2 linked regions of the Homo sapiens genome follow. The protein of the gene in region 2 interacts with the protein of the main gene of each other region in a pairwise test. Each region holds a gene or a part of one and is shown on either strand. Other genes may lie near its edges. The genes, in order: PELI2 and NEK9.

Evidence for each region.
Region 1: the proteins of NEK9 (region 2) and PELI2 interact in a two-hybrid assay, tested with the Homo sapiens proteins (one study listed by BioGRID).

Annotation. Positions count from the first base shown.
Region 1 is NC_000014.9:56,277,591-56,293,148, reverse strand, and holds part of PELI2 (E3 ubiquitin-protein ligase pellino homolog 2), read right to left. Parts: intron 13,474-15,558; coding exon 13,372-13,473; intron 4,713-13,371; coding exon 4,515-4,712; intron 2,882-4,514; coding exon 2,693-2,881; intron 431-2,692; coding exon of another isoform or gene 383-430; exon of another isoform or gene 1-382. UniProt on the Homo sapiens protein: E3 ubiquitin ligase catalyzing the covalent attachment of ubiquitin moieties onto substrate proteins. Involved in the TLR and IL-1 signaling pathways via interaction with the complex containing IRAK kinases and TRAF6.
Region 2 is NC_000014.9:75,100,120-75,115,677, forward strand, and holds part of NEK9 (serine/threonine-protein kinase Nek9), read right to left. Parts: intron 14,195-15,558; coding exon 14,084-14,194; intron 13,285-14,083; coding exon 13,220-13,284; intron 10,253-13,219; coding exon 10,202-10,252; intron 9,759-10,201; coding exon 9,566-9,758; intron 7,369-9,565; coding exon 7,224-7,368; intron 6,584-7,223; coding exon 6,383-6,583; coding exon of another isoform or gene 6,347-6,382; intron 5,878-6,346; coding exon 5,831-5,877; intron 3,879-5,830; coding exon 3,723-3,878; intron 1,647-3,722; coding exon 1,538-1,646; intron 1,035-1,537; coding exon 873-1,034; intron 1-872.

The sequences.
Region 1 (15,558 bases), about 19 Mb from region 2:
AAAGCCCAGGTTTCCTCATCTGTAGACGGACACAATAACAACACTGACTTCACGGGTTATTTTAAGCAACACTGGAAAGACAATTAATGTAATGCACCTGCTAGAGCCTGACCATAGCTACGCTATGGTTATTTTTATAATTTCACCTAAAATTAGGTATGCAATCAACTTAACTGAATTTACTTAATTTTATACAAAGCCAGTTTAGTTTAATAAAATACTTCATATATAATTTAATTAAATACTCAAGGCCCTCCTGGAGTAATATTATAAATGTTACCATATGTTATCATTAACTAGCTAAAAAAGGAGGGCACAATTCAAACTCCATTCACCTATTTATTCAGGGAGTTAAAGGCCTGAAAAGACATTTCCCCCATATTTAATTAATTTTGTTGATTAGTACACAGTTCTGAGGTTCCATCATTTGCTGTAATAATGAAAAACAACGGTGATTTCTTGTTACACATACATTAGTATATTGATTCATATCAAATGCTCAGTATGATATTAATACATAATCTTCCACCAGCACTAGCTCCACAATGTGACTACTATTGTTTTAACAAATATTTTAGACTTTTAGCAGCTCACTTTATTTCTCATATTTCTGTATTAGACTGCAAATGACAAGTACTGCCAGAGACTGTCTCCAAAATCTAACCTCCAGATAAACATAATTTATATCAAATGCTACCAGCAACATGTACAGGACCAATGAGTCATGAATTGAAACAGAAGTTCAAAGAGTCAGTAAGCTTTCCTCGAAGACAGACAAAAACTGTTCTCCAGAGGTTAACAAGAGGAGATTGCAGGAAGAATGTATCCGTTCAGTGTCCCATAAGCCCAAGATCAGGCTGATAGAAGCCTTTGTAACTGGCCAGGTTAATCGGATGCTATCAAATAGGACAGCACAATTTTACATAGTTCTCAGTGTCGCTTATAGGGACTAACTTCAAAAATAGCCTGTATATTTAATACAACTCATTAATACAAGCCATTTTTGGAGTTCGTTCTTTTCAGTCGCACTGTAAAATTCTCCAGCACACATAGCAGCCTGAGAAGGGTCATTACACAATAACCAGAGTGGACGAGAAACTCATCCTGTGATATGCCCTCCTGGACAAAGGCGCTCCCCACGGACTCCAGCGTATGCTTTATACTCACCCAGGGAGGCAAATGCTCAGGTGTAAACCATCCCTGGCTCCCCACAACATGGTACTGAGTAGTATTAGGTGTCCAGGCTCTCCATCAGGGAGACCTGAGTTTGAATCCCACTGGCTGCCACCTGCTAACTCTGTGACACTGGGCAATCTTTAACTTCACGCCACATCTTCCTCATCCATGAAATGGGGATGACTCTACTTCCCTAAGAGGGCTGCTGTGCAGATGAAGTGAGCTCATGTCGGAAATGTTAACGCAGAGTCTGCACCCAGCAACCATTTACTGACTTCTTACTCTTGCTGTTATAATGATGAATAACCAGTTTGGCCAATCTAGGTCAGTTTTGTATAAAACTATCCAGTGATCAGAAACAAAAGATTATTTAGAAAAACTGCTTTCACATTTCCTCCTTTGTTTACAATTTCTTGAAAACATTCATACAAAATTTATTGAATTTGCTTTTTTTTTAGAAAATGCTTCTCATATTTATTCAGCCATGGTGCACTGTAAGACGCATACGCTGTGCCTGAAGCTGAAAAATGGTGTAAAATAGAAATAAAAATAACCATTCCCTAAACACAAACATCCAGTAGAGAACAGCAAATGAGGTCAGTGAAACAGCCCCCAACTTCTTTTTCCATCTTAGACATTTTTGGTGATGATCTTTCTCTCTGACAAGTGCTAGGTCAAATCCTCTATTCTGTATACATTTTATTCTGTGGGAGTTTTGAAGAACTCCTTCTTTTCTAGCTTCTAGAAAAAGACATTTGTTCTCTCTCGTTCTAGCTTCTACCTAGCAAATTAAGAAAAGTACAGGAATGGACAGCTTACTAAAAATCAGTGGCTGTGCTACATGGCTATGGCAAGATCAGAAACCCAAAGTTCTATATTTAAGGTATTATAATTATTCTCCAAGAAAGAATGGGTTTAAAAAAACTGCTTTAGGGCATGGGGATAAGTGGTGATATTTATAGGAAAATATTAACATGCCAGGTCAATGCAGTATATAAATCATTTCAAGTAAACAGTTGTAACTATGATTTTGGTGGACAGTATAGAGAATTCTGCCTTAATATATAGGAATTCAAAGGGAAAACCAGCTGACTTATTTTTTACTTCCAGAAAGTCTAGTAAATAATTCCTTAATGCATAATTTTTACTAATTGTTTTTGGACTGCTCAAACGTTTTCCAAATCAATAAAGTTTTACACTAAAAATAAGTTTCTTCTCCTTAAAGTGAATTTAAGTAGATTTTTGTGGTGAGGTATATAATAAAAGATAATGCTCTTCAGGTGGTAAGGAGCAAAACACAATTTACTCCCACTATGGGAAAAGTTGAACCCCTGAAGGAGATAAGGCCATTTCCCTCTTGATTTCAGGGGCTTGTGGAATTCTGCTTCTCCTGAGTTACAGTACATGGCGCTTGGACCTGCACAAAGGTTCTGAACATCAGGGGAGGAAAATGATAGCCTTCGAGTTAGGCTTGAGTAGTTTCGTACTTCACACTTGCAGAGTGAAGCACACTCACCAGCTTTCCTCGTTGCTGGGCCGACCTGGTTTCTCGCAAGGTGTACACATCTCCACAGACAGAGATCTCGCGCCAGACCCCGGGCTGGGACTCCTCGGTGAAGCCCCCTCGTGGATGCATCACCAGGACGCCATTAGTAGTGAGCCCATCCATGTGGCCGTCGGGGTTTTTCCACTTTGCTGCCTTTTCCTGGAGAGAACACAGCAGAACAGAAAAAGTAGGTTAAGATGATGTTGAAATGGAAAGGATTCTGGAATTTCTTTAATACATTGCATAGAGGCAGAGGGGAGGAAGGTGATGAATTTTCATTTTCTATTTAAAGCTAATAATCACAAGGATAACATATGCCATCCTTTCGACAATATAAAAGAAGTGCTGAATGGATGAATGACTTATCACTGGACACACATCATAGTTCTCAAGAACTTGCAAAAAATCGAGGCCTGGGCTTCTCCCTCTAAGATTCTTTTTACCTTCCCCACAACCCCATGAGATTCCAGGAATCTGGTGTGTTTTCTCTTTTCAGTTATACTTATGCCATGCTCCTATCCTGTTATCTAAAAGTACTTTCTATGTTCTCACTGTCAGGATAGAGAAGAGAAAGGACAGTCATAAAGAAAGACCTTTTATTAAAGCTAGAAAATTCCAAAAATGTTAAGCCAACAAGTCGGGGTCATTATGTTTTCATAATAATCACCGTTTAAATTCTCAAAGGTAGATGGCGCATGTAGCTTGACATGACGACAGGACAGACACTCTTGGGTGCTTGTGCCACAGCTCTTCCCTTCAGCTTTCTTGGTGACAGAGCTCAGCTACTGTTCATGTGGCTGGGGCGGGGGTTGGGGGGTGGTGGGGAATCCTGATTAACCCAACATGACACTCCCAGCCCTCTTCCCAATAGCTGGTTTACAGGTGGGCACAGCACATGACTGGGCTCTGACTGATGACACATGATATCTTCTTGGAGGCTTCCAAGAAAGGTGTCTGTGCTCTAAGAAGAGACAAGGAAGAAACAGTGCTTCTGCCACCCTCTTCTCTGGCTGGAAGTTGTCATGTGGCAGGGGACATCTGGAAGTGCAGGAGCCAGCTCTCACCCACAAGAAGACCTCCCAGGAAGAGGCTGGTGCACCACGGGAGGCAGAAGGCAAGACAGAGAGAACCCAGTGCACTGGATGTCACAGAACCACTGAACCACCAACCCTGGAGCTGGCCTTCATCGGCACTTCTTATGTGGGAATAGTACATTTTCACTGATTTTAGATCATTTTGAGTGGGTTTTTTCCTGCAAAAATATCCTAATTCAAAAGGAAACTATGTTAAACCTGGATATTCACTAAAACTTCTGGGGTTTACAAGGAAACCCTATAAGGGCAGGGATTCAAGTCTGTGTTGTTCTCTGTAATCCCATAACTAAAACACCCAGTATGGAACATAGCAAACACTCATAAAACATTTTTGAATGAGTGAATCACTAACATTTTCCTCTAAGCCCTAATGATCTAAATTTGGCCCATTTATTTTTCTCTCTGAAATAAACCTCTTCGTTGCCGTAAATACATTATGGACAATGTTATAGGCATACTTTAAAAAAAGTACTTACTGTAAATATTACAATATAAAAAATATAATGAATAACAAGCAATGCTTATTAATGTTCAGATTTTTAATAACAAGTTTCTCAAACTGGCCACCTGAAAACTAAAATCTCAAAATCTCACTAGAGGCAACATACAAAGCCAATTTTTTTTTGCTCCAATTAAATGTTCCATATCATAATCACAAGCATTTTTCTAGAAATCGTGTACTTCTTGACAGTACTTACTCCAAGAAATATGTTTTTGGAAGAGTCAAATCCGGCGGCGAATATCCGTGCTGTGTAAGGTTCATTCCTGTCGCACACGATCCTGCAGGCGAACCTGGATATGGTGCTCTGTGTGATCTGGGCTTCGTCCGTGTTCTGGCTGCCAGAAATCGTGTCTGTGACAACGAAGTCGATAGGGCTTTCTGTTGATCTGCCCACCTAAGTAAATCAAATGTACTCGTGATTCACTTGGAAAATAGCAGGGTGCCGTATTTTATTCACAAGGAAAAAGCATTCAGGATTCCTTTAACATTCACTATCCTTGTTCTGAGGGTTAGAATTTAATGCAAGATTTTCATTCGTGCTCCTTTTCCTATTTAACTAGGGAAGATATTAGGGTAACCAAATATTAGAGATACCTATTTTTAATTTTATTGTATTGTGCTAAGAATATAATATGAGATGTATCCTCTGAAATATTTGAGCACATAATGCAGTCATTGTTGACTACAGGCAGAACGGTGCACAGCAACTCTCTAGAACTTACTCATCTTGCTTAACTCACTTTATGCCACTCACTAGTTCATTAGATTTTAAGTATTGAGAAAAAGCTCAATTAAGAGGACAGGAGTAGATCTTTGGCCACTCATCAGATTTTATCTCTTGGATTAATGTTCTATCCCAACAACTGTAACTCTGATTCTGAAGTTGCCAATGGGAGGAATGCAGAGGCCTGTGATGTATGCACATAAAGTTCCCAAAAGTCAATTTCCAAGGCATTTTTATTCTGGTCTCAAAGTTCTATCTACAAACTAGGCAATGTAATACATTTTTCATCCAAATGAAGAAAGTAGAAAAAAAATCTTGTATCACTTAGCTCAGCTTGCTTCCTGGAACAATATTACATTTCTTTTGTAAATCTCATATATACGTTCTCATGCACAGACTATCTCTCTAAAACCAGCAGACCACAGACATCTATTTTCTTTTGTTTTTTTATCACCCTTAATTTCTTGCCCTAATGAAATGTGCCTGGAATGAACTAAACTGCTGGTTTCATTGAAACTTAACAATTTGAACAGATGCATATTGCCTAGATATATGCATTTCAGGTTTTGAAAACACATAACTTGTTAAAAAATGCAATGTAAAATCTAAATTAGATGTATTATAAAATCATATAATTCATCCTTCTAAAGCTGCAAAATCTCCTCTCTGCTAGATTCATTTAAAAACTGGGTAACTTGGAAACTCTACTGATTCAGACTGCTTTAATTTTGTTAAACATTTTTTAACAAGAAAATTAGAAAAGTAATGAAGACTTATTGCAAAATATTTAACAAATGGAGAAAAGTATAAAGGCGAAAACAAAGCCAACTTCAAACTTAGGCGTAAACCTGTCCTGAGCCTCTATTCCAGTGAAGTTTAGGAGTAAAATGTGATAAATTCTAGAATTTCCCAGTCATCTCACCAAACCTGGAGCCTCATAGCGACAGTCACTGTCACAAGATTTGTCCATCTCCATGGAAGAGGGCAATGACTTTTCAAGCTCTAAGTTCAAAGCCAAAACCACTCTGCTGGTTTGAATGTTTCATAACTGTTCCTTCTTGTGTACAGAAATTACTCTTTTCTAGAAGGGCCACATTCTGAGTTCATCCAAATGTATTAAATTAATGTCTTGATGAAGTAATTGAAATTGACTGTAAAAAGAGGAAATTTTATTCTAACTGGAACAGCCTGCTAGGATCAATGATTTTAAGTCATGACACTTATCTTGATCGGTCATACACATGACTTATCAGTTTGCTTCCACTTAAATCTAACCTCTAGAGTGCTGGTAAAATTTTATACTTTATGACACAAGCCTCATGTTGCTTTTTCCAGGAAAACAAAACAACAACAACAACAAAAAAAACAACAAAAAAACAAAACTAAGTCACTTTCCTGCTGAAAAATCACTCAATGTGGAAAACTTGCAGCCTGCCCTTTCTTTTGACTACTGGATCAACTCTACATTATTTTAAAGGCAGTCATGCACACAAGCCAAGATGCTTTTGAATTTCATCTGATATTCATATAGCACGCAAGCCAGGGTGCTTCTGAATTTCATGTGATAGTCACAGAATGCCGGTAGTCATATAACTAGCTACAGTGATAACTTTGCTCCATTCAGCATGTTAAATTTTATATATATAAGAAAAGTTTGGGTTTGCCTGGATGTCAGCTGAAGCCAGGACAGGTAAGATGGTATCAAAGCATCTAGAAGGGCCTCACCTTTTTCTCACCTCCCTCAACCAATTCCTCCCATCTCCCTGCATCAATCACTTTATTTTCTGACTTCCCTCCTGGGATAAGGATGAAATATTGTTGCTCCCATCTAAAAGCAATCTTTCCATTGACACTTGGTATTCCAATGTTCTCCCTTTCCCAAGGATTTTGCTCCTAATATTATCTCCTCTCTTTCTTGAGTCACCAATTTCTCCTTTTATACTGGATCATGCCATCAGCTTTCACACACGTTCTGGAGCTTCTCAAACTCTGTGGTTAAAGGACCAGTATAGTTGCTGTTGTTGTTTTAAATTTTAACCCATCACTGATGCCTTTTAAACATACAATAAAAATGAGTACTTGAGAAATGATCATCTGCTTGGATGTTTCCGCAATGCCAAACTGTCATAAAAGTTTCCTCTCAATTTGTATGCTTATCTCATTCTGTATTTTAACAAACATTTCACTGCTGGGCAGAGGGAGTGCAGTTTGAGTAGCCCTGCTCTGGCGTAGTCTCCCACCTTTAAAAACGCTTTCCTTCACCTGCAAGCAAGCCCCAGGCTCCAGCCCTGTTTCTCTGATTCACTTAACAGCAAGACTTCTTGGAAAACCTGTTATCTCCTCCACTTCCTCACCCATATCTTTAGCTTCCTTCTTCCTCAACCCACTCCAATTGAGCTTCCTTCCCCACAACTCTACTGAAACCACGCATGCTAAGATTCCAAAAATCAATATATTGCTAAATCCAGGGCTTATGCTGAGCCAGCATATGCCGGTCCATCTCTACCTGGTACTAAAATAATGAAACTTTCAGGCCAGTTGGTAAATAGTCCCCCCTTCCCTTTTCTTTCTGTTCTCTCCCTAAATAGTATCACCAAATCCCACCTAACAGCTCAAAGTCTTCATCTCTCCCCTGAGCTTCAGACCGGCACACCCAATCTCCACTTGTATGTTTGATAAATATCTCAAATGTAATATATGCCAAACAGAACTTGGATCCCCCTTCACCCTGGGGCTTCCCTATATCAATGACTGACTGACATCCAATTTGCTCAAGCTAAAAGTCAAAACCCAAGAATAACCTGATTCTTCAGTTTCCTCCATGCCCACATTAGCCCTGTGTAAACACTGTCAGCTGTACCTCCAAACACATCCTCAATCCTTCTACTTTTCCCATTTTGGTTCTGGTTACCATTATGTCTTACTTGGGTTCTATCACCTTAGCCTCCAAACTGGTCTCCCTGTTTTCATACTTGCCACCTAGATTCTTTTCCATACAGTAGTTTGAGAAATCGTACAAAAACATAAATCAGATTATACCTCTCTCCTGCTTAAAATCCTCCAACAGCTTCCCAAAATTCCTAGAATAAATCTCAGACTCAACCTGGCCTGAAGGTCCTACCTGTCTCAGCCTCTACCTGCCCTTCCAAGTCCATCTGAGTTCACTGCTGTCCTTCTCCACTGTGATCTTGACTTGGAGCCTTTGCGCTCACTGTTTCCTCTGCCCAGAGGGTTTGTTTATTTGTGGTCTGCCTTCTCCAGATGTAGCCTCCTTGAGAGGAGAGCCTTAGTTATCTCTCCCCAGTCATCAAAGGAGTTTCTGACACAGCAGATGGTCAAGAGATGAAACTAGTAATTGGAAGATTATGACAGGGAGGCTGAATCCTATGAGATACAAACATACCTGCACATGCATGCTCATGTACAATGGTTGTAGAAATACCCACTAGAAAATGTAGATATTCTTTAATATTTTCCTCTTAACTTAATAGATACTAATTAAATGTTATCATCTAAAACTACAGTAAATCAACTAAATTGAAAACCAAACCAAACCAAACCAAACAAAAAACCAAAACCCAAAACTGTTAGGCCTTGTAGCACCGCGTTCGAAGCCTGTGAAACTGTGAAATCTGAGAGAAAGGGCCCCTGAACACCGGCTGCAGGGCCCAGTCAGTCTCCTGGCCCCTAAGGTCAGAAGGCACTTGGCACCACACGTTACTCTAGGGACACTGTAAAGACAATGCACCCCTCTAATTCCTTCCATTAACTATTTTCTCTTTTATGTTTCACTTTCTTGTTAGACTTTTCTTTCTTTCCTTGTTTATGCCTACTCCAGAAAATAATGACCAAGATCTTACTCTGATTATATTAACTAACAATTTCTTATACCTTAAATTCAGATCTAGCTTTGATTTTTCTCCTCAGGCAATAATATTTCTGAGTTCTGAGTCTACTAACTGACTCCAACAGTGGGAAATGCAGCATAAAGCCCTTTCTTGGTTCTTTCTGATATTCTGCCTTTAAATACTCAATTAACCCTAGAAATCATTTTAATGGGAATGACTAAAACGAACAAACTCTCCACACTGAGGTCCATACTTCAGAACTATGAGTGCTGTCGCGCTTTTTGCTCAGTGATTTTTGTCAGTAGTAGGCTTTGGAAATATAAACTTGTTAAAAGGAGGAAAAAATGGAAACAAGCCTGTCTTTTCAAGGTCTTATGAGAGTTGCTTAGTTCTCTGCTTAAAATGATCTGCCACAGATCCTTCTAACAGGTCCAGTGAGTCTGTGAATGTAATGTGTTATATTTCCTTAAGAAACATGTGAATTCTTGCTTGGCTTACCATACTTTATTTAAAGAGGCTGAGCTGGTACTATTCAGAGAATGAAGAGCTCAGTGACCTAAATCTTAGCTCTGCCCCTAATGCCTCTTCTCTTCTGGCCTTAGTTTACATTACTTTTCCTTTCAAACACCCATATTTCTCAGCTATGAAATTAAGAGGTTGGTACAAATCAGTATTCTCAGCATGTGGTTGATGAACCCCAGAGGGTCCCTGAGACCCTGCCATGGGGTCTAGGTACATGAGGCCAAAATTACCTTCATAATAATACAAAGACGTTAACTGCCTTTTCCACTGTGCTGGTCTCTATGCTGATGGTGCTAGAACAATGGTGGGTAAAGCTGCTGGTGCTTTGGCATGATTCAAAGCAGTGGCACCAAACTGTATTAGCAGTCATTGTATTTTTCATTGCTGTGAATTTGCAGTTAAAAATTATGAACTTTATTAAATCTTGAGTCTTTCGATATTCTGTATGACAAAATAGGAAGTATGCATAAAGTACTCAGAAGTTAGTAACGGGAAGCTGAAAAAGTCCAACTAAATCTTTTAATTCATTCTGCAGAGATGAGAGGGAAGAAAGTGAGCATGTGAGTCGAATGTGACTGTTCAACAGTGCGGAATACACTATGTGACACGTACGTCGCTAAAGAATATCTATGAAACTCTGAAAAATTCCGAAGAAACAAGATTCTTCTTAAAGGAATTTAATGTCTCACACTTTGAGAGTACCTGACTTACCTATAACAGGTACCATCACAGTAGTTTTTGAATTTAAGTGGTAAAAAAGTATCACTGACAATTGTGAAATAGGCTTTATTCACTTTTTTAGTATTAAGAATTCTCTCTGTAAAAAAAATCTTTAAAATCTTCACTGCTACTGTAAGTAGTAAAAAAACTTATAAATTGAAAATAATTTTAATGAGTATTAAAAAGATATAATAATAAAGTTCCATAAAAATATCAACAGGGGAGAATATACATATACTTATGTAGGAAGATATTTTCCTTAACAGAATAAGAAGACATTTATAAGATTATATAATGGAATGGCATGGAGAGTAAAACCACATTTAGTATTTTGCCCAAACATGATAAATCTTATTTTTGAGTTCAAACTGGCACTTTAATAACTATTTTTATAAATATGACTATATATTTTATCTAAGATTATTTAGTTTTTAAATATCTAACACATACGCATAGTTCCAAAAATCGAAAAGTGTAAAATATCTCCCTGTATACCACCTGCTCAGTCCCTTTCCCCACAAAGGCAACTGCTACATTCATGTCTTGTTAATCATTTTGGAGATTTTTTAATGCATATAAGCATGATTTAAACCATTTTACCATATTAAATTAACATTTAATAATGTAATATTTCATATTATTTAATAACATTTTATTTAGTAGCATTTTAAATTAATGGAATATATATTACCAATATGACTCCATATACTCAATAATATTAATATTTAACTCATTTAATATGTTTGGAGCTCTTTCTGTGGCTATATATACAGCTTTTCTTTGTTCTGTTTTATACCCTTGGAGGGCTCCACTGTATAGCTGTACCCAAATTTACTGAACTGGTCCACTACTGAAGAACATTTAGGTTGTTTCCAATCTTTTCCTATTAAGCAATGCTTTGAGCAATAACTCTGTACAAATGGCGTTGCGCATGTAGGTAAGGATATCTCTGGGGTAAGTCTCTAGAAAGAAGAGCTTTACAAAGAAAAGAGCTGAGTCAAACTATGTAAACATTTTGTATTTTTCATAGCTATTTTCAAATTGCTACCCCATAAATGCTATACCAATTTATAGAATGTAGGATAATGTCTGTTTTCCCCATATCTTTGACAAAACCTTTTGGATTTCTGCCAATCTGACAAGTGAAAAGTGGTATCTCTATGTGGTTTTAATTCACATTTTTCTTTTTGTAAATGAGGTTGAGCATATTTTCTTATTTTTAAGAGTTACTTAGTTTCCTTTTTTGGTGAACTGTCTGTCAAATCCTCTGCTCATTTGTCTATCTGATTGTAGGTATTTTAAAAAGAGATTTCCAAGAGTACCTTATATATTTGTGACATTAACCTTTTGTGATACAAATTGTAAATATTTCCCCAATTTGTAATTTGCCTTTGGCTCTTCTTATCAGTCTGAGGTGCTGAAGTTCAGGACTACTGCAAATACATTTAAAAACCACATAAAATATTCTTTCTTTCTCAATCAAAAGTACTGAATTAGGTGATCCAGATTAGGCCTGTACTTTACAATGTTACAGAAAATGGAAAAAGAGCTGGTGCATTTCTTTCTAGTCCCATCTCTCTTCCATACCTATGTTTATGTGTGTGCATATAAAAATAAAGCATGAAGTGGACATATGCCTTTTTTCACTTATTTTATTGCGCTTCCCATTTAATAATCATGTAATGGCTGCATGGTATTTTGCATTTAAATGCACCATACTGTAATCATTCTTACCTACTCCTGGAAGTATAGGTTTATTTTTAGTTTTTTACTAGTATATACAACACTACAATGAACAACTTTTTGGTTAAATCTTTGTTCATATTCCTTAATTATTTACGTATAAAAATGACTGAAGTTAGAATTACTGGGTCAATTGGTCTGAGCGCTGAAATTCATGGTAGTACTGCAATGTTGCCCTATAGAAATGTTGCACCAATTCACAGTCCCACCAGGGGGACCAATTCCATACAATGTTTTACAGTGCTGTATTATTTAATATTTTCCAATTAATAGGTAATAAAGAGTATTTTATTATTAATTCATTTGGTATTTTAAAAACTATTTTATATATTTATTGGCCATTTATATTTCTTCTTCTGAGAATTATATGTTTTGTTCTTTGTCCATTTTTGAAAGCATGGGAAAAGTGATTACTGTACAGTAGGTATCAATCCTTTGTCTACTTGATTTGTTGCCCTAATTGTCTCTAGTTCGACTTCTAATTTTTGTGACATTTAAAAAAGAAGTGAAAATGCGTAGGGTAAAATCTATTTCTTCATTTACTATTGATCCTTCCCTATTCCAAGAATATGAATTCTCCTAAGTTTTTTTCTAGAACTTTTTGTTCCTTCAGTTTTATATTTAAATGTTTATTCTCTAGAATTTACTTTAGCAGAGTATGATGTTAGTATCTATCATACTCTTTTGATGTTTGTTTCGACATCATTTATGTAATAATTTAACTCTCCATATGGAAATGCAAAGCCTCATCAATTCCAACTTATGCTTGCTTTTTTCTGTTATTAGTCTAAATTTTAATTGTTTGTTGTTTTAAAGTACTAAATCTGGAATATATTCATTAATTCTCTTTTTTTTAAATTCATTAACTGACGAATGTTTTTTTCCTTCCTTCTGCTCTTTTGATGTGCTTCTAGACTTTATATTATATACCACTAAAACTATGCCCAAACCCATCCTGTACTTTCTTAATTGCTGTACTTTGTCAAAAAAGAACTTTTGAGATAAATGTTTAGTCCCTTGATCTTCTTTCTTTCTCTCTCTTTCCCTCCTCTTAATAATGAAAGCACGTAAGGCATTTTCTTCCGAGTAAGATGTTGGCCTCGTCTTGTCAGTTGTGCTACATGATATTCCCACAGTTATTTCTGAAAAGACCTATAAATGTAGTTTGGATGTCCCTTTCATTCAAATGCTACTTAGAAAGTATTCTGAAAATGTTGGCTTTTAAAAGTGGTTAGCTTTTAAAATTTTTATTCTTGCTTAATTAATGTCTATTTTTATTGCACTGAGGTCTGAGAATGTAGCCTTTATAATTTCCCTTTACAATTAAAGAATTAAGTTTTTTTCTTATTCTTTCAACAACCAAACAGGAATAATTTTTATATTATCTTCAACTCTTTCCCCCTGGACATACTGGGCTGGAAGATCTGATTACATATAAAAAATAGAGAATTAAAGGAAAACGTGCTAAAATTTCTATTAAAAAAGAAAAATATTACCTGAAACATATCCGTATCCTTATCATGTGTGTACTCCACCACCACAGTCTGATTCCTTGACAAAGTGTAGGATATACTGTGTTGACCTTTGCAGCTGATAGCCTAATAATAAAATTTTAAAAAAATCCATTACAATTCCATTTCAACAACTTATCAATTCTGCCTGTAGTTATGAGCCACCACTCTACTGGCAAAGCCCAGCACAAGCCAGCATTTTCCACACAGTCAGGTTTTTCCCCTATGCTCTATTCCGTCAATCACAGACAAGCCAAGAGTCACAATTCTGGTTTTATCAAATATTCTGTCTTAAAGTGAACAATATTTTATTAAATCAAATCAAAGTTTATTTACTAGTTTGCAAGACTCGATTCAATCACATTCTTAGAAAAACACACACTTTCTCCATATTACCTAAACTCAGAAATAGAATTTTTAGACTAATAGAGTCATTTATTTCAAGTTTTAAGATTTCACACAACAGATAAGTCACATATTATTATTTTTCCTAGGTGATAGAGATTATCAGCATCATAAAAGAATCACTGGAAAATCTGTCAATGTTCTAATTAAGATTTCAATATCATAATACACCGTCCTAGCCAATGATAACCATATTTGTATTCTGTTCTACATCTCACTTAAATCTTGTATAAGCAACTAGTTAAGTCAGATATTTACTTTATTAATAAATAAGGTAACTAGCAATTTTATTTTTTTCAAATTTTAGGCCAGAAAAAGCTAATATTCTTTTTCAAATAGCCTAGGAATAATATGATATCATTCTTATTTTGTCCATAGTGATATGTTTGAACAAAAAGTTGTGGTCACATACTTTTAATGTTTCTAAATTAACAAATAAATCGATATAAAGTGGACTCCAAATTATTTCAATTGTGTTCTATTCATTCTACTTCAATCTAACTTATCTTCATTTTTAATCTTTTACATTAAGTATAACAAAATTTTAATAAGCTTTTCTATTACACATTTATTGAATGATGACACTGTATGAAGACCAAGAAAGCATCTAGAAGAAACTGGACACACACAGCATGTTAATGAAAATGTACTAAACATTTATATTTGACTAATGTAATTCCTTACAGCAATAAACAGTAAAACATTCCAAATCAACTCTGAAGTTAGTTAGCCTGGTTAATCTCATGGTTATTTAATAATCTGCCCTGAGGAATTTCATGATTGAGCTGATGTTTTATTTTATGTGCTTCCTTAAGATAATACTTCTTTAACATGGTCAGGAATCTAAAAAATACTTCTTAAAGTACTCAACACTACTAACAGACATCGTCTTAAATTTTCATTGATCTGAGTCAGATAAATTCACTGAGAGTGACTGTTTTTGAAAGCCAAATTTATAAAGAACTATTTTCAATTTAAGTGGATGTAATCTTTGTGTTAATTAACTTTTGTGGTAATCATTTCACAATGTGTATATATATCAAATCATCATGCTGTACACCTTGAATATATACAATTTTTATTTGTTAATTATACCTCAATAAAACTGAAAAACAATTTGTAAAAAGTACATGTTTATCTTAATAGTGAAGAAACCTACTTTAAGAAAAATAATTTATTAAACTCAAACTTATAAAACTAACAATCAGGAGTTGATTACAAAATAATTTATTTTAGGGTTTCCTATAAAGTATCTATTGCATTTTAAATGCATTCAATTTACAAATATATCAACTCCAACACAACTTTCATGGCATATACATATTGCATAAAATGTCTATAGTGTACAAATGATCTGCAAAACAAGGAGTTAACGAGTGCAATAATGGGAAATACTTTTAAAGGTTATACATTTTTGTACAATGGCACCTGCTTAAGTATGGTGTTTCTCAAACTTCCACTCCATTTGCCTGAATTGGAAGGGTTACCTGAACCTGGAGATGTCTGGGGAGCAGCCCTCAAATGGAGTTGCTCATGCTTAAAACAGCTTACCTTAAATTATAAATTTTGTTTTTTATTCCCTAACACATTTGCTATTTTAACATTTAAGTATTTCTCCCAAATTCACTGGGAAGTCATTGTCTCATGAAGACTCGCTCTGGTCACCTGAGGCCTAGCACAGCCATGGACAGGGTGCTCTAGAGTAGTGGTCACCAACCTTTTTGTACCAGGAACTGGTTTTGTGGAAGACAATTTTTCCATGGACTG
Region 2 (15,558 bases):
CTCCATCTCAAAAAAAAAAAAAAAAAAAAAAAAAAAAAAAAAAAAGGCCAGGCACAATGGCTCACGCCTGTAATCTCAGCACTTTGGGAGGCCGAGGCAAGCGGATCACCTGAGGTTGGGAGTTCGAGACCAGCTGACCAACATAAAGAAACCCCGTCTCTACTAAAAATACAGAAATTAGCCGAGTATGGTGGCGCATGCCTGTAATCCCAGCTACTCGGGAGGCTGAGGCAGGAGAATCGCTTGAACCTGGGAGGCAGAGGCTGTGATGAGCCGAGATTGCGCCATTGCACTCCAGCCTGGGCAACAAGAGCGAAACTCTGTTTCAAAAAACAAAACAAACAAACAAAAAAATCGTCTCAGAGAAAAGAGAGGAGAAAAATCAATTAGACCAACTCAGAAATCTGAGAGATACATAATATAGCGGAAAGCAGCCCTTCAAACCTTAGCAGTCCCTATGGACATCACTGCAGTACAGGTGACCCCAGCCAACAGAGAAAATATGCTGTTCTCTCCAGCTACCCAATCAATGTTTACTGAAATCAATCAACAAGATACTGGGCAAGTTATATAGAAGTACTTAATAATTCTTATAACATTTTACCAAAAAAGTGAAAGCTGAAATGAAAAAAGGAGGAATGTAGAACATTAACCTATCATTATCTAGAAATCTGGCCTTTAAAAACAATCACTATGTTGAACACATGAAAAGTTAATAAAGCTCAATATATATAACCGGCCACCAATTTAATACAAATAAAAAAGTACATCCACAATTCAGCTATACAAATAACTAGTCCATTTCTTTCCCAGCCAAGAACTGAAACACAGCCATGTGTCCAGAAAGCTTGAAATGATATGTACAGACTCACCATCAGTGGCAGCAATGGTAAACTCATCACCGCAGGAGACCCTGATCACTTGCTTCCCACCAAGGGGTCCCCCCAACAGGTTGATTCCCAGACGCTTCTTGTAGTTCCCAACGCCCAGCTGCCCACACTTGTTGCAGCCAAAGGTCAGCAGCCGGCCTCGCTCTGAGAGAGAAGCAAAAAGAAATAACAAGGCACAAATGAGTCCTGGAACCCAGAGAAGATGCAGCCAAGCAGACTTCATGGATTAGCTTCCGGTTGTTAGAATATACAAATATAAAACTAGCCACATGATCCTGGACCTAGGACAAATACAGTATCTAGGCACTATAACCAATTAGATCCAGTCAGCGACTCGATATTGTATTCTCTCTCCAGTACTGTATTTGTAGTGAGAAAAATGAGTACTACCTTAGAATACTTATAAAAGGTGCTAATCAGAGACAACAGATGTCTGGAATCATAGGTGTGGTGTTCTCATAAAAGGATGTATTTATTATGCATTTATAATAATTATCAATAAAAATATGTACCTGAATACATTAATGAAATAATACTAGATTTTCAGGGGAAATCGGGATGATATACATATAAAGAAAACCTAATACCTGATAGAATAAAAGAGGCTCAGCTACTAAGGCATGTGATACAGTTGTAAATCAACTTACCATCAATAGCAGCTGTGTGAGTCTTGCCTGGGGCAATGGTACGGATCTTATAAAAGGACAACTGTTTGGCCAAGGTAAAGGACGTTGTGTAGGGAACTTCATGGTATGCCTGAAACAAAATAAAACACAAAGCAGATGCATGAGGTAAGAAAATCGAAGGAAAATCAGGCTGAGAATGGAAAAAAGTCCTGGTGACCAAAAGGCCTTTCAAGTAAGTTATATTACTAAGAAGAGGGTGCCAGGTAGTTTTCCATCTCCAACAGAAAACAAGAGGAAATAAGCTGAATATGTAATCAGAGAATGCAGCACATGAGGCAGAACTTTCTGACAACCAAAGTTTTAGATTCTGACTTAGGGTTTATAAAACATGAACTTTCCATCCCAGAAGGTATTTATATAAGGAGAGAATCGTTGACATTTACCTTGGTTATACACTCTGCATATCTAACAAGGGCAGGGCAAAGAATTAAAGTCCTGAGGACTGTCTCCAGCCCATAAAGGAATCAGCTTACTGTGATCTAATTTCATCTATAGGGTAGTGTTTCTCAACTTAATTAAAACTCATGTTCCCTTTGAATTAGTATTAAAAAAGAATCCTCTCATTTAAGTTTAAAATTTCACAACAAATCCACTGCTATAATGAAAACATAAATCAAGTAATAGTAATTCTGAATATTGTTTTTTTTGTTTTTTTATTTTGTTTTGTTTTGAGACGGAGTCTTGCTTTGTCGCCCAGGCTGGAGTGCAGTGGCGCGGTCTCGGCTCACTGCAAGCCCCGCCTCCCAGGTTCACGCCATTCTCCTGCCTCAGCCTCCCAAGTAGCTGGGACTACCGGTGCCCGCCACCACACCTGGCTGTTTTTTTTTTTGGTATTTTTAGTGGAGACAGGGTTTCACCGTGTTAGCCAGGATGGTCTTGATCTCATGACCTCGTGATCCGCCCGCCTCAGCCTCCCAAAGTTCCGGGATTACAGGCGTGAGCCACCGTGCCCGGCAACTGAATATTTCTTTTCAAACTACAAAGACACTCTCTCCAGCCTTGCCCTGAATTTGTACTCTCCTAATTGAAAATCACTACTTTAGAGATTGCTTAAAAATTAATTCTTACCTTTTTCATTGAGTCAGAAAACTTCTGTCTCTTAATTTTATTCTTTGGAAAATGACAAAACTCATTATATTAACACAAAAAGGAAACTAAGACGCAGCCATAAAAAAGGATGAGTTCATGTCCTTTGTAGGGATATGGATGAATCTGGAAACCATCATTCTCAGTAAACTATTGCAAGGACAAAAAATCAAACACCGCATGTTCTCACTCATAGGTGGGAATTGAACAATGAGAACACCTGGACACAGGAAGGGGAACATCACACACCGGGGCCTGTCATAGGGTGGGGGAAGGGGGGAGGGATAGCATTAGGCGATATACCTAATGTAAATGACGAGTTAATGGGTACAGCACACCAACATGGCGTATGTATACATATGTAACAAACCTGCACGTTGTGCACATGTACCCTAGAACTTAAAAGTATAATAAAAAAAAAAAAAAGGAAACTAAGACAATATCAGTGGTGAATTTGCTAACATTTTTGAAGACAGAATGGTAATTACATTCGATAAGCCTAAACAGGATCAGTGATTTGGGAGAAATCTAAAAAACTCCAATCAATCAAAAAAACTCCAGGAAGGTGATGCATGGAAATATGTTTTTTTTTATAACATTAATTTGCTTGTTCCTATTTCAATAAGGTAAAAGCTGAATTTCATCATTTTATTCTTTGTAATCAATTTATTTGTTGAAGTATAACACACTGCAAAATATCACACAGCTTGACACATTTTTCTATATACATATACTGGTAAAACCATTACAGATCAAGATATAGACCATTCCCATTACTCTAGGATCCCTTCCACCTCTTCTGTTAATACCCCTCCTTCAATAAGTAGCCACAGTTTTGATTTCTGCCAGTATAAGTTAATTTTGCCTGTTCTTAAATTTTACACAGATAGAGCTATATAGCATGTACTCTTTGTGGCTGGCTTCTTTTTCTGCACACAATGCCTATGAGACCATAACTAAAGTCAAATTCCATGGTCACTAACCAATAATGGCATCTCAAAGAAATTCCAACCTAGAGAAATTCTGATGATGTGGTTAGAACACCAATCAGGACACTCACTTCATGGTTGATAATTCCCGACATGCACTGATTCAGACCCAGCTTATTGAATTCATTGAGTCCACAGGCCAGCACTTTGCCTGACTGGGTCAACAGAAATGTCCCATCACAGCCACATTGAACTGCAACAATAATCAAGGCCTTGGGAACATCCACCTGCAAGAAAAAAATCAGAAAAAGAAATCCCAAATATATAATTCGTATTAGAAAAAAAGCTCTCAAATTCTTTCAAAAGAGACATGCTGCATTTAGCAGAATGACTACAGGAAAGTGAGGACTGCTCTATTCTTTTCAGGTTTGCCCAGTGTCTTAGAGACTACTTTTTCTTTTTTTTTTTTTTTGAGATAGAGTTTCCCTCTTTTGCCCAGGCTGGAGTGAAGTCGTGCGATCTTAGCTCACCGCAATCTCTGCCTCCCAGGTTCAAGCGACTTCTCCTGTCTCAGCCTCCCAAATAGCTGGGATGACAGGTGCATGCCACCACGCCCAGCTAATTTTTGTATTTTTATTAGAGATGAGGTTTTGCCACGTAGGCCAGGCTGGTCTCGAACTCCTGACCTCAGGTGATCTACCCACCTTGGCCTCCCAAAGTGCTGGGATTACAGGTGTGAGCCATCACGCCTGGCTGAGACTACTATTTTCTTTTCTTCTTTTTTTTTTTGAGGTGGAGTCTTGCTCTGTCGCCCAGGCTGGAATGCAGTGGTATGATCTCAGCACACTGCAACCTCTGCCTCCCAGGTTCAAAGCGATTCTCCTGCCTCAGCCTCTTGAGTAGCTGGGATTAAAGGCGTGTGCCACCATGCCCAGTTAATTTTTGTGTTTTTAGTAGAGACAGGGTTTCACCATGTTGGCCAGGCTGGTCTCGAACTCCTGACCTCAAGTGATTTGCCCGCCTCGGCCTCCCAAAGTGCTGGGATTACAGGCGTGAGCCATTGTGCTCGGTCAAGGCTACTGTTGTCAACGAAGAGCTCAAGTTTTACAATATCAAAGAAAAGGTGACAGTTCCAGGTCAACTAAACAAGACAGCACCCTCTCAGTTTGTCTTAGTAATAGGTCCTACTTAGGGTGACCTGTCAAAAAGTTGAGAAAGAAGCTTCAATTCATTGCTGATTTTGTCCTTTGAGATGGAAGGCTGCTTGACAGTTACAGAAATTCAGTAGCCCTGTGGGGTCCCAATCTGGTCATTTTATAGGAGAGGTGACAGAGTACTGAGGTAATATCTAGGACTTCCAAATGCTCATATCTTTTTACAGCTAACTAGACAGGACTGGAGAAGGTGGGGTGATGCATGTGTGGGGTCACAATGGATGTGTGTAAAACCTGAAACCTCAACCCTCAGTTTCTGCCACAGCCTTTCCAGGAGAAAAGGAACAGCTGGGAATCCCATTGAGGATGGTCCCTAGAAATGCATAATAATTTAATTTTTAAAATATAAATAAAAACTGGTTTGGCTAAAAGTTCCCAAGGAAAGAAAAAAAAAAAAGAAAACAGAAAACCCAAAACACTGCTAACAATAAATGGTATAGCTGATTTAGCCAACCCTCCAATGGGTAAGCCTGTGCCCTAGGGTAGGTGGGAGAGATGTGACTGTGCTTTTCCCCCAGCTGGTATCAGCCTCTGTGAGCCTCTCACAGGGCCAGCTCTGGCAAGGCTGAGAGTAATTAGATAATATGTTTCATGCAACATGACCGCTAAACAAAAACAACTATTAATATTTCATCTGGTGGTCAACTGTAGAAACAGGAGAGGAAAATGGCTGTGTTGGGTTAAGAGACAGTATACTGCTTTACAGTATCTTCTCGAGTTTTCCAGGGTATTTGTAGCTATATGTGACTTTTCTGCTGTACACGCTGATTTTAGCTGTCATCCCTGAGTAAGATGTGACTTCACAATGTCCACAGTCGCTGTATCCACTTTCTCAATTTTCTGTGATTTGGTCAGATGACAAGACCACAGGGTGCTAAATCAGGAATCCTAAATTGTCAGTCTCCCAAACAGGAAACACTTCGGAAATAAATACCTTGATACAACAGAGCCAAGGAAAGAGGACATATTATTGGAGTCTGTGCGACTTAAGATAGGTTTTAGAAATAAGTTGCTTCTGATTTTACCTTTTGTGGTGTATAATAATCCTCTTCTGAATCCAAACCCAGTCGTCCTGAAACACACATAAGAATGAAAATCATTATAATGAGGGCTTCCTTCCCAGTGAATAGGTTCTGTAAGATTCTCTTTTGCCAGGTGCGGTGGCTCACACCTGTAATCCCAGCACTTTGGGAGGCCGAGGCAGGTGGATCATGAGGTCAGAAGTTCGAGCGAGACAAGCCTGGCCAGTGTGGTGAAACCCCATCTCTACTAAAAATACAAAAAATTAGCTGGGTGTGATGGTGTGTGCCTGTAATCCCAGCTACTCGGGAGGCTGAGGCAGGAGAATCACTCGAACTCGGGAGGTGGTGGTTGCAATGAGCCCAGATCATGCCATTGCACTCCAGCCTGGGTGACAGAGAGAGACTCTGTCTCGAGAAAAAAAAAAAAAAAAAAAAAAAAGATTTACTGAATTAACACTTCTCATTTAGGGGCTGCATGATGGGTTTAGATGCATACAACTTTGAAGTCAGGTTGTATACCTGTGAAGAAGTGGACAGAGACAAGGCTACCCCTACCATATTCGCCACAGCCCCAAGAATAGACTTCCTTGTTTCGTGTCAGAACCACCACATGATTATCTCCACAGGAGACCTGCTCCACTGGATTGCTGAGGAAGAAGTTCAGCTGCATGGGTTCTAGCACTTCAGGGCCAGCAACTTTGTCCACCCCCATGCAGCCATAATAATCTGATCCGAAGGCATAGAGCTGACCCTCATCTGCAAAAGAAAGGAAAACAGAATCCATCAAAGGACTGACTTATTTTATCTAATCAGAAAGTTGGGCAGGGCTGGAATGAGGACTACCCCAGCAAATGATCTCACATGAATTGATTATATCCAAGAAATTAAAAGGACAGACTGTGCAAGTCTAGAGTTCTATGTCAGAGAGTCATGTGTACTACTACTACTATATTAAACAATTTAAAAAGTGGTAGCATTATCACATTAAAAGGACTTAAAATTTTAATGGGGCCATCTTTGTTATATAGATAAAAAAATAAGTCCCAAGGAATCATTAACTAAGTAATGACAAGACCAAAACTAAACTTAGGTCTTGATCCTAATTTTGTGTTATTCATAGCCTGATGAGGTGGTAAGATTATTTTTCCTGCCAACCACGACACACATTTTCTCCTGATCCCACCTCTTCTCTGTTACCCACCTGTCTTCTCCTTGCTCACCACCCCCTAATACTATAGCAAATTTGGTATGTTATTATTAATGAGTATATTTGCTCAAGGTCCTCTGGTTCTTTGTATACTGTCTTTTGTTTTAAAATCCCAACTAAGATTGCACAGCATTAAGCAAAATACCCCCACATTAAATGCACTTAAGACACTTTCTGCTGATGGCTTACCAGTCACACAGACAGTGAAATCATCACCACATGACACCTGACGGATAGCTTTGCCTTGCAACTTTTCCACATGCTTTGGCTGTCGATAGGAGGCTTTGTCTCCATGGCCCAGCTGACCATGGAGTTTAGTGCCTCCTTGCATGTTCTGTGAAATAAAGAGGTCTTATGACTTTTTTTTTTAATTACATTTTATTAAACTTAAATTTTAAAGAGATGGGTTCTCGCTATGTTGCCCAAGCTGGTCTTGAACTCCTGGGCTCAAGTGATCCTCCTGCCTCGGCTTCCCAAAGTGCTGGGATTGTAGACATGAACCACCATCCCCGGCTGAGAGGTCTTATGAAGTTTTAATTTTTCATGCCAAAAGCTGATCTTTAATGGAACTTCATATGAAGAAAAACAGTAGAAAAAAAGAGCTAGAAATTTAGAAATTAGAAAAAAATGGGCAAAGGGATTAAACATTTTAATAGCAAGTAGTATACAGATCCTGCCAACAGGTAAAGAAAACTTAAAAAGTATCCAGATTAATATCCATTAATCTAATCTTTGTCCTTCAAGTCTAAGGTAAACTATATATTTAATTACAGGTGATGGTGAAAAAAATTCTTTATAATATAGTCTAACTTTGTTGCTTTCTACAGGAATATAGCTTCTTGAAAATCTGTACTAGAAGTTTCATAAATTTTGGTCACAGTTTCCCTGAAACATGGAAGAGTTATAAAGAATCTGGCTACATCAAAGAGGCTGCTATACAGCAATGAGACTAGTCCTTGATGACTTTTCAACTTTTTTTTTTTTTTTTGAGACAGAGTTTCGCTCTTGTCACCCAGGCTGGAGCGCAGTGGCTCGATCTCAGCTCACTGCAAGCTCTGCCTCCTGGGTTCAAGCGATTCTCCTGCCTCAGCCTCCCAAGTAGCAGGGATTACAGGTGCCCGCCACCACGCCTGGCTAATTTTTTGTATGTTTAGTAAAGATGGGGTTTTGCCATGTTGGCCAGGCTGGTCTCGAACTCCTGACCTCAGGTGATCCACTCGCCTCGGCCTCCCAAAGTTTTGAGATTACAGGTGTAAGCCACCATGTCTGGCCTTTTCAACAGTTTTATAGAGAAAAATAATTCTATTAAATGAGTATACTACAAGTCCTCATATTTTATATATATATGTGTGTGCGTGTGCGTGTGTGTGTGTGTGTGTGTGTGTGTGTGTGACAGTATATATATATATTTTTTTTTTTGAGACAAGGTCTTGCTCTGTCACTCAGGCTGCAGTGCAGTGGTGCAATCTTGGTTCATTGCAATCTCCACCTCCCAGGCTCAAGTGATTCTCATGCCTCAGCCTCCTGAGTAGCTGGAATCACAGGCATGCGCCACCACTCTCAGCTAACTTTTGTATTTTTAGTAGAGATGGGGTTTTGTCATGTTTGCCAGGCTGGTCTCAAACTCCTGGCCTCAAACAATCCACTCGCCTTGGCCTCCCGAAGTGCTGAGACTTCAGTTGTGAGCCACTACGCCCAGCCAATAAATGTTTAAGATACTAATTTCTCTCCAGCAGCCTGAAATGAGCCTGAGAACGCATAGCAAGAGACAGGAGGAAAGCCAAGAGAACATGCTATCACAGAAGGCAAGTAAAGACAAAGCTTCAAGAAGGAGGGAGTGGTCAACTATGTCAAATGCTGCCGAGAGGTCAAGCTAGGTAAGGACTAAAAAGCATCTGTTTTATTTTAGCAATTTATGGGTCATTTTGTCAAGACTAGTTTCAATTGAGTGGCAGTGGCAGAGATGGAAGCTGCATTGTAGGTGAATGAAGAGAGAGTGGGAGATAAGGAAACAGACAGCAAACACAGACAATTTGTTAAGGAAGGTGAGAGGGGAGAATCTAGAGGGCAACAAACAAATTCTACACAAAATATACCTAGCCATCTTCAATCACTGCTGTGGGCTTCAGGGGTTTCCTGACATGGTATAGTCCTTCCTTTGTTTACAAAGCTATTTCACAGGTAATAGTTGCTCTGAACCTCATGGTAATATAACAGAGTAATTGAGTGACTTGTCTGAAATCATCCAGCTGTAAATGGGAAACCCCAGTCTCCTGAGTCTTTCAATTTTTCTCTCCCTCTCTCATTCATTCATTCAAAAAACATTTATAGGTGACCTAATATGTACCAGCCCTGGGCATACATCAGTGAACTAAACAGACAAAATCCCTGCTCTTATAAGAGCTTCCATTCCATCACCCCATGTTGCCACTCCCTTAGTATAGGTTCAACTAATAAAATGCTTAGACATCGTGGGCCCAGTAAACAATTAGGCTTACAGCACTGTTCCAAAATGCTTAGCGTTCACTTACCACCCAAGTGTACAGTTCCTTCTCCACTGTGACCACAGCAAAGTGGGTATTCCCTGCACAGACCTGCCGGGCACTACAGCCACTCTTGATAACATCCAGTTTCTGGGGGGTGGATTTTCCACCACCCCAAACATAGACTTCACTGGTTCGTGATGTTACTACAGCAATGGGTGCTTCAGTCACAGTGCTTGACCTGCCAACAACCCCCAGAACAAAGGAACATTTAACATTAAAAACAATATCAAAGAAAAATGCTTCCAGTCTGTTCCCTGAGAAGAACTGCCAATTATGGTATGAGAAAGTATGTTCTTTCTCGACAACTTGTTTCAATGTGCTCTATCACAGCAGACTTTGCAATTCCTGCCTCAGGGCTTCATCACAGCTTGGCCAGATCAGATTCCAGTCTGACCCATAACACCTACACTTTTCCACATTCATCATGGTAATGATGGCCACTTTAGTGTGAGGGTGAAATTATAGCTTTCTTCTTAGAAATGACTGTCTGACATTTAAGCAGATGCTGGCTCCTGAAAGGATGCCAAAGTATCCTCGGATCAAATAATGCCTACACTCAAGAAAGAACCCCCTGGTTGTAATTTCGGATATATTAGTTTTTAAGAGTCTCTTGAACATTACCTTGGTCTCTTTGTAGGTGCATTAAGCAGAGTGACTTTTTCCTCCATCTCTCTACCAAAAGAAAAGCAAAGATACATGAGTGAAATAATAGGTTTTTATATTGCAAAGGTGTCTGTTTAATACATTTCACAGATTTAATCCTCTTATAAACTGTATGCATCCTACAACATCACAATACTTTTAGCAAAGTACCTCAATACAACTCAAAACAGTTATATAGTCCTTTCATTAGACAATTCATTAAATACCCAAAGGCCAGCAGTTTGGGGCCATTTGCTTTCTGTCTCTGAGAAATGGTCCAGGCTGGAACAGAGAGCCTTGAGAACCTCTGATGTACATATTTAGTATCTGATGGACACCTTCATCTAGTCTGCCCACTGACTCCCAAACTCAGTATCTCCAAATATGAGCTTGTTAGCTTTTTCCCAAATGAGCTTTTCTTTCTGACTCCTCTATTTCTGTAACTAGCCGCAACACCCTTCCCCAATTCTCCCAGTCAACTGGGCTTAAAACCTCAGTCATCTCTGATTCATCTCTCTCCCTTTCTTTAATATTCAGGTTCTACAGATTCTACCTATATAGTACTTTTTGTACTCACCTCTTCCTTTCCAGTCTCACCACCTTAGTTCTGGGTAGCTCTACTTCCCACCTGTACTGTGATAATACCTCCTAATCAGCCTCACTTACTACAGTCTTAATCATTTTACTATACTAATTTAACACAGATACTAATATTGCCAAATAACTCTTCCTTAGGTATGCCTCTCATCACGTGAACTGCCCTCTCGCAAACATCCACCATCTCTCAACAGTGGATGTGATACCCACTCTATCTTTTGCACTACCTCTTGAATTAACCACAATTTTCTTGGCCTGGCATGCAAGATTTCCTACCTATTTTTCCAGACTTCCTTCCTTTTGTTTGCACCCCACGTTCTAGCCCAGGGCTGTCATCCTACCTAAATCAATTATAGCTGAGCTCCTAGAGTAGTGCTCAGGCATCAGTACTTTTTGAAAGCTCCTGATATTTTGCATCAAAAATCCCAGGTCTAGAACCACTAATCTAGCCAAATAGAATTTTGTGTTTCCTGAATATTTTCCACAACTTCCTGTGTCTATGATTTTGTTTATGCTATATTCTCTGTCTGGAAAACTCTGTCTTATGTTTTCCATCAAAGTACAAAGTTCCAACAAAGTATTGCAGGCAAATCTATAATTATCTCAGTAAAAATTTCATGCCTACACTCAAGAAATAAGAGATTAAAATAGTGACTTAAAATAGTGATTATGCCGTGTGTGGTGGCTCATGCCTGTAATCCCAGTACTTTGGGAGGCCGATGCAGGCAGATCACCTGAGGTCAGGAGTTCGAGACTAGCCTGGCCAACGTAGTAAAACCTTGTCTCTACTAAAAATACAAAAACTAGCCAGGCGTGGTGGCGCCTGCCTGTAGTCCCAGCTACCCGAGAGGCTAAGGCAGGAGAACTGCTTAAACCTGGCAGGTGGAGGTTACAGTGAGCTGAGACTACGCCACTGCACTCCAGCCTGGGCAACAGAGTGAGACTCTCATAAAGTAAATAAAAGTAAATAAAATAAAATAAAATAAATCATTATATTGCTGTGAAATAAGCCAGACAAAAATTTTAAATATGCTTCACCAGACCAAAAGGGTGATACTGCCTGCACGTGCACAAAACATAAATGGAAGGTCATGGTGCTGTATCTGGAGTACTGTACATAATTTCAGGCACTAAAACACTGGCTACAGACCAACTAGAGAAGAACCAGAAAAGATTAATTAAATGGCATAGTAGAATAAAAGTACTGATGAAACAGCAAATATGCAATTAGGGATGTACAGAATGTATCCAAGAGCAAGACTTGAAAAGAGCATTGTATGTGAATATTTGGAAGATATAAAAACAAAAAACTGGTAGTGGAGGAAGAAGCGTAGCAAGGCAAAAATAGTGTAATAGGATGAAATACAGACTCAAATATTTAACGAAGATAAATGTTTTAAATTAAGGTATGAAACCTCCTAGAGGAACAGAGGGATAAAGGATGTTCTTCCTATCTCTAAAGATATCTGACAGAATAATCTCAGGAAATAACCTCTGAGGAGTCAATAAAACTCGACTTCAAATATGGGCAAAATGTACCTGAAGAGGATTCCTCCAACTCCAACCTACCACCTAAACAAATGCAGTGAAAAACAAAGGCTCAGGCTGGGCATAGTGTCTCATGCCTGTAATCCCAACACTTTGGGAGGCTGAGGCAGGAGGATTGCTTAGGCAACAGCTTTGAGATCAGCCTGGGCAACACAGTGAGACCCCGTCTCTATAAAAATAGAAAAATTAGCCAGGCATGATGGTGCACACCTGTAGTCCTAGCTACCTGGGAGGCTGAGGTGTGAGAATCACTTGCAGCAGAAGTTCAAGGCTGCAGTGAGCTAGGACTGTGCCACTGCACTCTAGCCTGGGTGACAGAGTGAGACTCTGTCTCAGAAAACAAACAAAAAACAAAAAAACCAAAGGACCAGTCCAACTCACACTACAATTGATAGGCACCCTATGCCAGGCCCTGGGCTGACCACTTTTTATGCGTTATCTTCTTTAATCCTGACCTCATCTTACTTTATAGAGGAGAAAGCCAAGAAATAACGATGTTAAATAACTTGACAAAGATAATGACAAAATTCAGATACAAACATAAGGATGTCTGAGTCCAGACACCCCTCTTCCTTACTGCACTCTAATGCCTCAACTCTAAGGTTTAAAACCAATGGGTTGGGGAGTGAAGGGCTCTTGGGCCTCATTAGTACAAATTTACAACAAAACAGCACAGGCTAAGGAGGCAAAAGTCAGATGCCACCCCTAAGCAATAAAAGCAGGGATGTTGGTAGAAAATAGCACTATTGCAACCAAGTCAGGAAACACTACTCTTTCTTTTAGTACTCTGATCAAGCCTCTAAAAGTCAACTATCTCAGAAAAGACAATGGAGTGACTTCTTCATAATTTACCTCCTGCGTTTCCTGAGAAGAGGGCGATCTAGAAGTTCATCTGCAGTAGGTCTCTGCTCAGGATCCTAAAAAGTAAAAATAGGGTTAGTTTTCACTTAATGGAAATGGGCGACATCGGATCTAAAGATGTTAATTAGTCAAAGACCACTGCATTATCCTTTTGTTTTAAAAATCATTTCTTATGTGATACTCCATATTTTATGCTTCTCACCTCATTATAATCAACACTTGTACATGAAGGAGAATGTTTATAATGCATCTTCCTCACTTGTTCAGTTAGGGCAGTGGCTCTTGAACCTCAATATATACAGAACAGAAGAATTACCTGAGGTGTTTGTTACAAATAAAGATTTCTGGGCTTTATCCACAGAGATTCTGATTGAGTTCGTCTGGGGTGGGGCCCAGGAATCTTCTTTTTACTTACAAAACTCCCCCATTCCCTGGTGATTCTGACTCCAGTGTTTCATGAAACATACTTTGAATAATACTAGAACTACACAGCAAGGGAACCATGAGATATGAGAAATACAGACATTCTGTATTAGAAGTGGTAAATTATCTTTCATTGCAGTTTTTTGAAATCTATATTCAGAAATTACTCTTGGTCATAAAAAATCGAGCACAATTTAGATGGGAAATTCATTTCACAAACTAACACTTACAAAACAGAATGAAGTAAGAATTTGTTCACTGAAGCACACAACTATAATGAATTACCAATACCTATTCTGGGTATAGCCACAAATACACTCTACCCTGGGGAAGTGGATGTGGTTTTGTATGGTTTATAGCTATGCCATACACCAAACACTGAGGCTGGAAGGGGAAATACGAAACTGAAGTGAATGTTTAAGTCACACCTACCTGGTCAAGGCACGAATGAACCATTTGGATCAATTCCAAAGAGTACTGGCTAGAGTCAACTTCCATGGCCCGAATTCCTTGCACGATCTTCACACACAGGTTAAGTGGGTTCTATGAGAAAATGATGACTGCATTGTTCCTGGTTATATAAAGATGATGCTATACTCTACTGGTAGGGGCTCTCAGGTGTCTGTGACCATTATTTAAAGAATTGGCAATAGGTCTGACTTCTTGTTATAACTACTAGTATGCATCAAAAAAAAATGGTTAGGGATGCACTGATGCTATCAGACAGAATGAAGCCAACTGGCCATACAATCTATAACTATGTGGCCAATAATATGATGCTCAGAGTATATTATAATCTGACCTTTCAACTGAATCCCAAGAAAAAGGAAAGCAAGATTAGCCATCCTTGTTGGCTTCATGTAGTTCCCTTGCCAACTAACTTGCGTCCTAATTTATATATCCTAATTGTGGCTGTACAGGCAATACTCTGCTGCAACAGATAAGGCAGTAATAATAATAAGATGATAATACTAACAATATTATGGTAATACCACCACCACATTATTGAGAGACTACTACAAACTAGACAGGCACATTACATATATGATATTTTTTAGCCTCACTAACACCATTCAAGGAAATTATTATCATTATCAATTTATATATGAGAAAAATGGGGCTCAGAGATGTAAAGTAACTTGCCCAAAATCACAGATAGTAAAAATGGAGCTATAATTCCAACCAAAGCCTGACTCCAAGTCATATACATATATACACATATATACACACATACATATACACACACATATATGTGTATATATGTATATGTGCATGTGTACATGTACACACACGTGTGTGCACATATATACACGTGTGTGTACATATATGCACACGTGTGTGCGTACACACACACACATTTCTTAAGACAGAGTCTCACTCTGTCACCCAGGCTGGAGTGCAGTGACACGATCTCCACTCACTACAACCTCTGTCTCCTGGGTTCAAGTGATGCTTGTGCCTCAGCCTCCTGAGTAGCTGGGATTACGGGCATGCGCCACCATGCCTGGATAATTTTTGTATTTTTTAGTAGAGACAGGGTTTCACCATGTTGGCCAGGCTGGTCTCGAACTCCTGACCTCAGGTGATCTGTCCGCCTCAGCCTCCCAAAGTGCTGGGATCACAGGCATGAGCCACCGCGCCCAGCCTCTGACTCCAAGTCATTTTTCTTCCACCATACTATTTAGGAGAATTAGATGATATACTAGAACAACCTTCAGGATTTAGAAAAATGAATAGGTCTTATGAAAGGGCAATGAATTTGCATTATCTTACATTTGCATTTTTCATATACATTATGAGAGAATCTCCGTGTGGGGAATATATATTGTTACCATGTTATAGATAATGAAACAGAGGATCAAAGAGATGAAGTGATTTGCCTAAATTCTCACACCTGGTTGGTAGAG